2 separate regions of the Homo sapiens genome follow, and region 1 is reported to be linked to region 2. Evidence: microRNA targets listed by miRTarBase, many of them from high-throughput screens and not tested one by one. Region 2 holds a microRNA gene; the other region holds the end of a gene's coding sequence.

Region 1 (4,236 bases), not on the chromosome of region 2:
CTTCACTTCAGCCTGATGGGTTGCTTTCTGCAACCAATCACACTGATTGCAGGCCACTAATTAATTTACACAGGGTGTACACCAACTAACCAATGGTAAATCCCTAGAGGGTATTTAAACCCCAGAAAGTTCTGTAACGGGAGCTGTTGTGCCCCAGTGCTCCTGGGCTCCTACTCTGTGGAATGTACTTTCGTTTTCAATAAATCTCTGCTTTTGTTGCTTCATTCTTTCCTTGCTTTTTGTGTTTTGTCCAATTCTTTGTTCAAAACGCCAAGAACCTGGACACCCTCCACCAGTAACACAAAGACTAGGCTTGCAGGACAAACTCCATTTCCTTTTGTTGTCAATTTCTTCAAGCAGATTCAAAACTAAGTGGAGTAAGTAGATTCTGAGTTTATTGTTAAGATTTCTTTATTTACAGTACAAGTCTCCAAAAGTTCAAGGCAGTTATCTTTTAAATAACATGTCAATCATATAAAATAGCTAGAACCAAAGTAGAGAAATATATACAATACATTAAGTACTTTCAATATAGTGGCATTTTTCATATTAAATTAAAAGAGGCTACTATGATTTACAATGTCATTTCCCTAGTTTAAAATTCAACATGTCAAAAGACATAATGTACATTTTTTACAAAACTGACACAGCAGTATTAAAACTGCTAATGATTGTAGTTTTTATTTTTTCTATAATACACTGCACCTGTGTTACCAAAAAAAAAACAAAAACAAAAACATTGCACTAGATGGTTTGAATACTGCATAAGTCAGTATATTAACACTTGAGGAATAATGAATGGCCTGGTCCGTTTTATGATCAGGCTCATTCACAACAGTTTTCACTCTTCAAGCTCAGCAAACTCCTACAGGTAATTACTTTCCTTGGCAGTTTTACACAGGATCACTGCAAATGGGTAAAATGTCATGAAGCTGATGACCACAATGCCATCACAAAAGCTGATATCGATATAACCCTACTATTTACAATACCTAATAAGAGCCAAAGCTAGAAAATCACTCACTGCTAAATCATGGAAAAAATTATAGTTTGTAGGAAATTTTGAATATCTATAAAATATTCAATAGACTACAAAAGAGCTTGCAACAGCTTGTTCTCATTATTTTTCTTAGGTCAGAATTAGAAAAAAGTAAATCCTATTTTTTAATAAGTTTTGATGGCATCAAAAAGCTTCACATTTATAAATAAGATTTTTATACAAAGCAACATGTTACTGACATAGTTTTCTCTTGCTACTATCAATTATTCTCGGGACTCATGTTGTATGTTAAGGAAGGAAGTATTAAGATTTCTTCCTCATTCCTAAATTTTCAGAATATACTCTAGGCCTTGAAGGAAAGGGAAACAGTCATTCAATACTTAACACTGAGTAGTACAATATTTGAAATATATCTATGATAGTGGCCTAAACAAGAGCAGCAAGGGACCAGACATATAGTTCTACCACTCAATAGAAATAAATTGTATATTTCCCCTTCATTAATACTGTCCAATTTTAAAATGAGAGATTACCTTTGCAAGGCAGCAACTATTGTTTCAGAATGTATTATATTGAAAATTTTTGCCACAAAGTTACCTACTAGACTACAGTACTTTAAAACACAGTTGTTCAAGTCATGGGCAAGGAAAACAAAATCAACAGGACAGATTATTGTCAGAAGCCATTCCTGTGGAGCATTCCTGCTATGCACATAGAATTGAAACTAAAAACAAAGAAACAACCTAATTGCACCTAGGGGGAGACACCTTGTACTTCAAGTGCTCATGACTAGGGGAGTACAGGAAACAGACAGGAATAATAACCTTAAGTATCCTCACAGAAAAAATGAACAGAGACAAAACAGTGTTGGCATTTTAAATCAGATACAAAATCCATTGTTCCTAGACACAAAGTAAGTTAATAATGTTCCACATTTATTTTTTTACCTCTGTACAGCTCCTTTAATAGTCTTTGATTTCAAAACTAAAATCCTCAGTGTTTTGTGTATCTTCAAAAGGCACATACACGTTTTTAAAAGGGGCCAAGTGGAACTTAGCATCACATTAGTCATAAGTCCTTGGTCAACTTGCTTCCAGTTCAAAACAAACCACATTTTTAATAAGCACCAAATACCAAACTACTGCCTTGATTCTCTAAAGCAAATTTTCCACAATGTTCCTAATTCAAGTATTCATCATACTGTGTAACTGAACTTGTCCAGATTTCTTATTATGTGAAGGTTAATGTGCTATTATTATAGGCAGTCCAAAAACAGTGAAATCCTTACAACTTTATAAATCCCTAAATTATCCTTGTTACAAAAAGAAGTCAAGAGGAAATATTCTGGGGTTACAGTATTTCCTCAAAGATAGTTTACTACTTCTGATCACTTTTTAAAATAAACAAAAATGCTATTAAACAAGAAGTTCCTTACTAAGAATAACTTTCTTTTTTTGTTTCGTTTTGTTTTTTGAGACAGTCTTGCTCTGTTGCCCAGGCTGGAATGCAATGGTGTAATCCCAGCTCACTGCAGCCTCCGCCTCCCAGGTTCAAACAATTCTCCTGCCTCAGCCACCCAAGTAGTTGGGGTTACAGGTATATGCCACCATGCCCAGCTAATTTTTTGTCTTTTTAGTAGAGATGGGGTTTCGTCATGTTGGCCAGGCTGGTCTTGAACTCCTGACCTCAGGTGATCTGCCTGCCTAGGCCTCCCAAAGTGATAGGATTATAGGCGTGAGCCACCGCACTTGGCCTATTTCTTAACATTTCTTAGTAGTCAGAACTAGCCATTATGTAGAAAGTTGGAAAAGGGGATGTCCACAGTAGAAATTTTTTATTTTATAGATGCCACCTAAATTGCTGGTTATATTGAAAAGACACTTTACCTCTGTGAATAAAACAAGTGTTTCCTTCTCACTCAATTTCTTGGATTGGGCCTAATTTATTTTTTATATTTCAAAAATCTTTCATTAATAATTATTCCATTAGGGTTTAGTAACTACAGACTCATTTACTAATGATTTACTATGATACCCTAAAAATAGAGAAAAAACCCTAGAATATGAGCGTATGCAAGTAAGTGCAATTTAATATATGAATTGCACAAAAATTTTAAACAAGTTTTAAAAATATCTCTAAAAGGAGGCTTAAAGTTAATTGCTGTAGCCTCCTGTCTTCCACAGAGAAGACAAAATTTTAAAAACATCAAACATACTCAAAAACAGGCAAGCTGGAAAGATAAACAACATGACAGGATTCCCAGTTTAAGTCAAATTCCTCAATAAAACAATAAATGCCCACGTGTTTAACCGGCCATTAATGGAATAAATCAGAATTTTTGTAAAGGTTTCAGAAATTCTGATAATAAGTAACATTAAATTATTACAGAAAAACACAAAACAAATTCAGCAGCTCTACAAATGCTTTCTAAGTAGATAACATGTTAAATGTGATGCCAGGATAGTCAATTTATGAGACACTGTTTTCTTCTTAAAACAATTAAGCTAGCAAATTTAACCCATTTTTCACCCTATCTACTCATCTCCAACTTTAGCCCTTTGAAACATGTCTGTATTTTAGCTTAAGAAAATTTTCATGCCACTTCCCAACCTACAGACAGCTCCACAGGTATCAAAAACCAAAGTGCAAATTCATGGAGTTTTACCATTCCATTACGGACAGTCTAAACAGCCACAGAACTGAAAAGCCTTGGCATACAGTGGTGAACACGATGAAGAAATAAAACATGTAGCTTATTTTTGGTCCTTTGTTCCTGTCCCCTTTTCCTTCACAGTCCATTTCAAAATATGTGCTTGATTTCAGCAATTCAGACCCAAGCCTGTCCAGTGGTCTGGTACCATTAGGAAATACTTGTCCATTGCCTCACAAAACCTAGTCCTGTACAACTCCGGAGACACCACTGTTGGCATTTTACCTGAGATTATGAAAGAGAAAAGGGGGAAAAAGCTGTTATATAATTGATTGGGCAACTGAAGTCAACTGACCATGTTCTTTCATATAAACTGCCATAAAGATACACATGCAGAAGCAGTCTGAGTGGGCAGGAAAGGTTATCTGTTGTGCCACATGCCATGGGACAAAGTCCTACCTGGTACGAGTTTCTGTTTAAAAAGACTAGCTCCTGCCTAGAGATGAGCGATGTCTAAGAGCACAAATGAGGCTAACAGTGCTTAGAGAACTTGGAAGTCTCAAGTGTTAATTAAAGACAATCTCTT
Region 2 (4,284 bases):
TTCTACCTTTTGTCTATTATAAATAATGCTGCTTTGAACATGGGGGCACTATGTCCCTTTGAAATACTGATTTCAGTTCTTTTGGGTATATACCCAATACTGCAATTGCTGAAATATGGTAATTATATCTTTAATTTTTTGAAGAACCACCATAGTGTTTTCTGTGGTGACTGTGCCATTTTACTTTCCTACCAGCAATGCACGGGGTTATAATTTCTTCACTTGTCAACACTTGTTATTTTCTGTTTGTTTGCTTGTTGATAATATTGATTCTAATGGGTGTGAAGTCGTATCACATTGTGGTTTTGGTTGCATTTCCCTAATTAGTGATATTGAGCATTGTTTCACTTATTTATGAGGTAGAATTGATTTTAGAAATATTTTTGTTTGAGTTTTGATTTATTGGTGTGTAGCTGTAGACTTGGGTCATTTTGGACTACTGACACTGGTGGAGGTTCCTGAATGCTGGGAGACCTGGACATGTCCAGATTAAATGTCCCACACCATAATCTCCCTTTCTCTTGCTCCATGGCAAGTAATTTAGCTAATCCTTTAATTTATTCAGTGCACCTCCCTCTCTCTTTACAGTCTTTTGTTTAACTTGGCTCCCTAGCTCTTAAAATATAACTAGTTTGGGGTCTGTGGATCTCTTACTCCTACTTGCTTCCCCCTTTCTTCAGCCTCAGTATTGAAAGGAAAAAATAGATTCCTGGGAGGCCTGTGTCTCCAAATGAAAATTTTGAAAGAGACCCTCTTGACAAGAACTCTAGGAAATGTTGAGAAAGTCCAGGGCTGAGAAGGAAGAATAAGATATAACTAGGTTCTAAGCCAATTGCTCTCTTGGAAATGATTCCAGGCAAGGTAAATGATCTGTATAATCCCCAGGAATGGTGGAGAAAATGAGATTTTTGTCCTATGAATCCTGGCACTGCCTAAATGATCTATCTCTTTTGCTTGAATTCTCTGCATGTTTACCTTGTTCTCTCTGTTGTTTTGGTGTTAAAAGTTAAATAACTCTGAACCAAGGGACTAGGAATTTGGGGGCACAGAGGGTGGGGAGACCTTTAACACTGGTGGAACACAAATCATTTTTAATATGCCATTCCTAATGACTTGAAAATACATAGGAAAATGTTGGTGAGATTATTTGTTGCCGACTGAAGAGAAGAAGTCCTCAAAATCAGCACATGAAATATGCAGCAAGTAAGAGTATCCTCACTAAAGGATGGTTAGAGAATGGGAATGGAGTGGCAAACATACTAGAAATTCTTCATCGTATCTAAACTTCACGTATATATTTGGGTAGAGCCACCACCTTCAGCTGAGTGTAGTGCCCTACTCCAGAGGGCGTCACTCATGTAAACTAAAACATGATTGTAGCCTTTTGGAGTAGAGTAATACACATCACGTAACGCATATTTGGTGGCCATGGGTGTGAGTGTATACAGCCGCATGCACAGAGCTGCCCTCCCTTGTGTCCAAGCACCACCCTCCCCTTGCTGGGCTAACTCAATGGACTCCCATAGGCAGGTCTTGAAAGGCAAATCCTAGGGACTGAGGGCTCCCAGGAAAAATCACCCATGTAGGCTTTCCGGGGATTTATATACCCTTGTCCAAAGGAGGCATGCCCACACAGGTAAGAAAATTTGTAGTGAGGATGTGGCTTTTCCTCTTTTTATATTCAGAGCTTCTACTGCTACAGAGCCCAACTATTCATTTTGCCTTGAAAAACCTCCAACGTATTTTTCCTCACAACATTTCTTTTAGCTTCCAAGCCTTTTCATTTCCCAGTGGGCTCTTCAAATTCCCTCCTGCCTCAGAAGCATCCCTCTGCACCAAAAAGCTCTTGCTCTTTCAGGATTGAAGACAAGCCTTTCCTTAAGAGTTTGTGTGTTCTTCCTTACTTGGAAAAATACATTATTTCCAAAATTATCTATCTGTTGGTTAAAAAAAAAATATATATATATATAAAATATTTATGTATATATTTTTAAAAAATATTTATATGTATATTTTAAAAAATATTTATTGAAAATATGTGTATATCAGTCCTTTCTAAATTCAACATATCTATAAAAGGTTAAGAAGTTGCCTAGAATATTTGTTTTGTTAGTTTTCTTTGAATTATATTTAACATTTTATTTTTAAAATTATATGAAGGAATAAAAAGAAGTGAAGGTATTCATCTCAGATTATTGAGAATGATAACATATATATTTGTCTTTTCCCTTCCACTTCCCTTCAGTTGCTCCTTCTTAACCTAAGGTCTTCAGAAAGAAAACTTGAGAATCACAGACAAAAGATGGCCAGCGCCGGATCCCTGGAGAACATCTTCAGACTGGAGCAGTGACTAGGAAGCAGGTTGTACACACTACGGTGCTGGAAAAATGGAGGTGGAGTGGGGTTGGAGGGTAATCATCCTGGTGACCCCTTCCGGATTAATTCTCATAAAGCACCTTAAGTGGGCAAGTTGAAGTTTATGGAATTTTGTTGTCATCTCGAGTCAGTGACATGTCTCACTCCGTTCCAAATCTTGGCAAAAATTTAGATTGTAATCAAGAGGAAGGGTATTCTTCTCTTATATCACTAATACTACTACATTATCGCCTGTGTACAACCAGTGTCTACTGCTCATGGTATCTTCTTCCCTATTTCATGAGCTCTAAGAGTTTTCCTGGGCAGAAAGTCTCACCACCCTAGATGTGTGTCTGGGGCAGTGACAGTGGCACCACTGCAAATTGTTCTCAAATTTGTGCTTATTTTTGAGAAGGTGTGAGTTTGTGTGTGAGTATGTGTGTGTTGGTTTTTACAAATGAGTTAATTTAGTTAGTTGATTCGTTCATGTGCATATTGTGGTTGGGTTTGGGGGGACTTTTCAAATTGTTTTTGCTTAGTAATATTGTTTATCCAGACATTGGTAACTGTCTGATTTTGGTTTTGTTTTTGTTTTTTGTGATATTATTTTGTTTATAATTGTCCTTTCATTTCCAGTCTCTGTGCATTTATTTTTCAAAGTTGGTTCTTCCTTTTTAGGTTTATTTGTTTATTTTGTTTGCTTGTATTATTATTTTTAACTGACACATAATCATTGTACATATTTTGGGGGTACAGTGTGATTTTTTATTGTTTGCAATTCAGTGTTCATGGCACCTCTGCTTGTTGTTTCGTTGCATACTTGAAGTTTTTTTTTTTTTTTAAGTTAGAATTGTGGTTTGTGTTTCAGCAAATGTTTTATTCCTGTTTCGGGGGGAGGGGGCTGTCATGATTTAATTATTAGTTGTTGGTTCCAATCTGAGTTTTCTTCTTTGGTTTTGATTTGGTTTTAATTTATGCGTTTGGTTTGATTTGTACTGAGAGGTGCTTGGGAGTTGTTTTAGTTGTAGTTTCCTTTGTGTATTTAGACATGTTTGTTTCTTTCCTGCTGTTTTGCTATATCTTTCTTTGTTTTATTCTCTAGTGTATTTCTATTTGCTTTTCAGCTGACTTTTTGTGTGTATATGTGAGTGGGTGGGTGGGTGGATGGATGTGGGTGTGTATGCGTGCATTTCTGTGATTATTTTTGAATGATGTTGACTTCTTTAAAGTATTTTGTTATTTTCCATGTATTTTTAGTTTCAGTTTGTGTTTATTGTTTTATTTTGTGTGTGTGTGTGGGGGGGGGGGGTTCTTCATTTTCCTTGTGTTTTGGGATATTTAAATTTGTATGAATTTTGTTTTGTTGCTGTAGTTATTTTTTCCCCTTTAATTGTGTGGGGCTCAGAAAGTTTTGTCTTTCATATATATGTGCGCTTTATTGGGGATGTGTTTTTTTTTTTAAGTTGTGGGAGTTTGCTTGGATTTTAAATGTTTTGCCTCAGTATCTGTGTGTATGCTTACATGGTTTGGTATTTGCAACATGCTTTCTAATTGATAAGTTCATGTATTGATTCTGTTTGGAATTTGTTGTAGTTGATTTATTTATTTATTTTAATCCTGTTTGTTGAGCTTTTCTAATTTGGGATGATTGTTGATAGGGGTTTAAAAATATATTATTGGTTTACTTTTTAGTTTTTATTTATTTGTGCCCTGTTTTTCTGATTCATTACTTTTTAAAAAATCATTTATAGAAGTTTTGGTACATAAGGCTAAAATTTCTTTCTTTTGTTAGGGATAATTTGCATTATTTGTTGATTGATTTTTTTTTTTTAGCTTATATGGTTTTTTTGAATTGTGTGTATGAGCATGTGTTTGTTATTTTGAGATTTTTGTATTGTGATAGCTTTAGTTCTTAAAAAGCGTCGTTGA

What was found. The annotated mature microRNA hsa-miR-508-3p reads UGAUUGUAGCCUUUUGGAGUAGA and lies in region 2 at 1,372-1,394, shown strand. An mRNA with a match to its seed (bases 2 to 7 or 8) in the 3' UTR can be bound and repressed. Matches are read on the target gene's strand: a 7mer-m8 pairs with bases 2 to 8, a 7mer-A1 pairs with bases 2 to 7 and ends in A, and an 8mer does both.
Region 1: the mRNA of PIKFYVE is a reported target of hsa-miR-508-3p. Seed matches in the 3' UTR shown: 8mer at 669-676.

What each region holds. Positions count from the first base shown.
Region 1 is chr2:208,354,889-208,359,124 of GRCh38, reverse strand. It overlaps PIKFYVE (phosphoinositide kinase, FYVE-type zinc finger containing), which reads right to left. Exons shown (of 42, transcript NM_015040.4): 42 at 379-3,935. The coding sequence ends at 3,820. Among named protein-coding and RNA genes, the nearest start is that of PTH2R, 50 kb to the left of the region's middle.
Region 2 is chrX:147,234,055-147,238,338 of GRCh38, reverse strand. It overlaps MIR508 (microRNA 508), which reads left to right and starts at 1,312; the gene lies at 1,312-1,426. The region is part of intron 2 of LOC105373347 (periphilin-1); the gene reads right to left.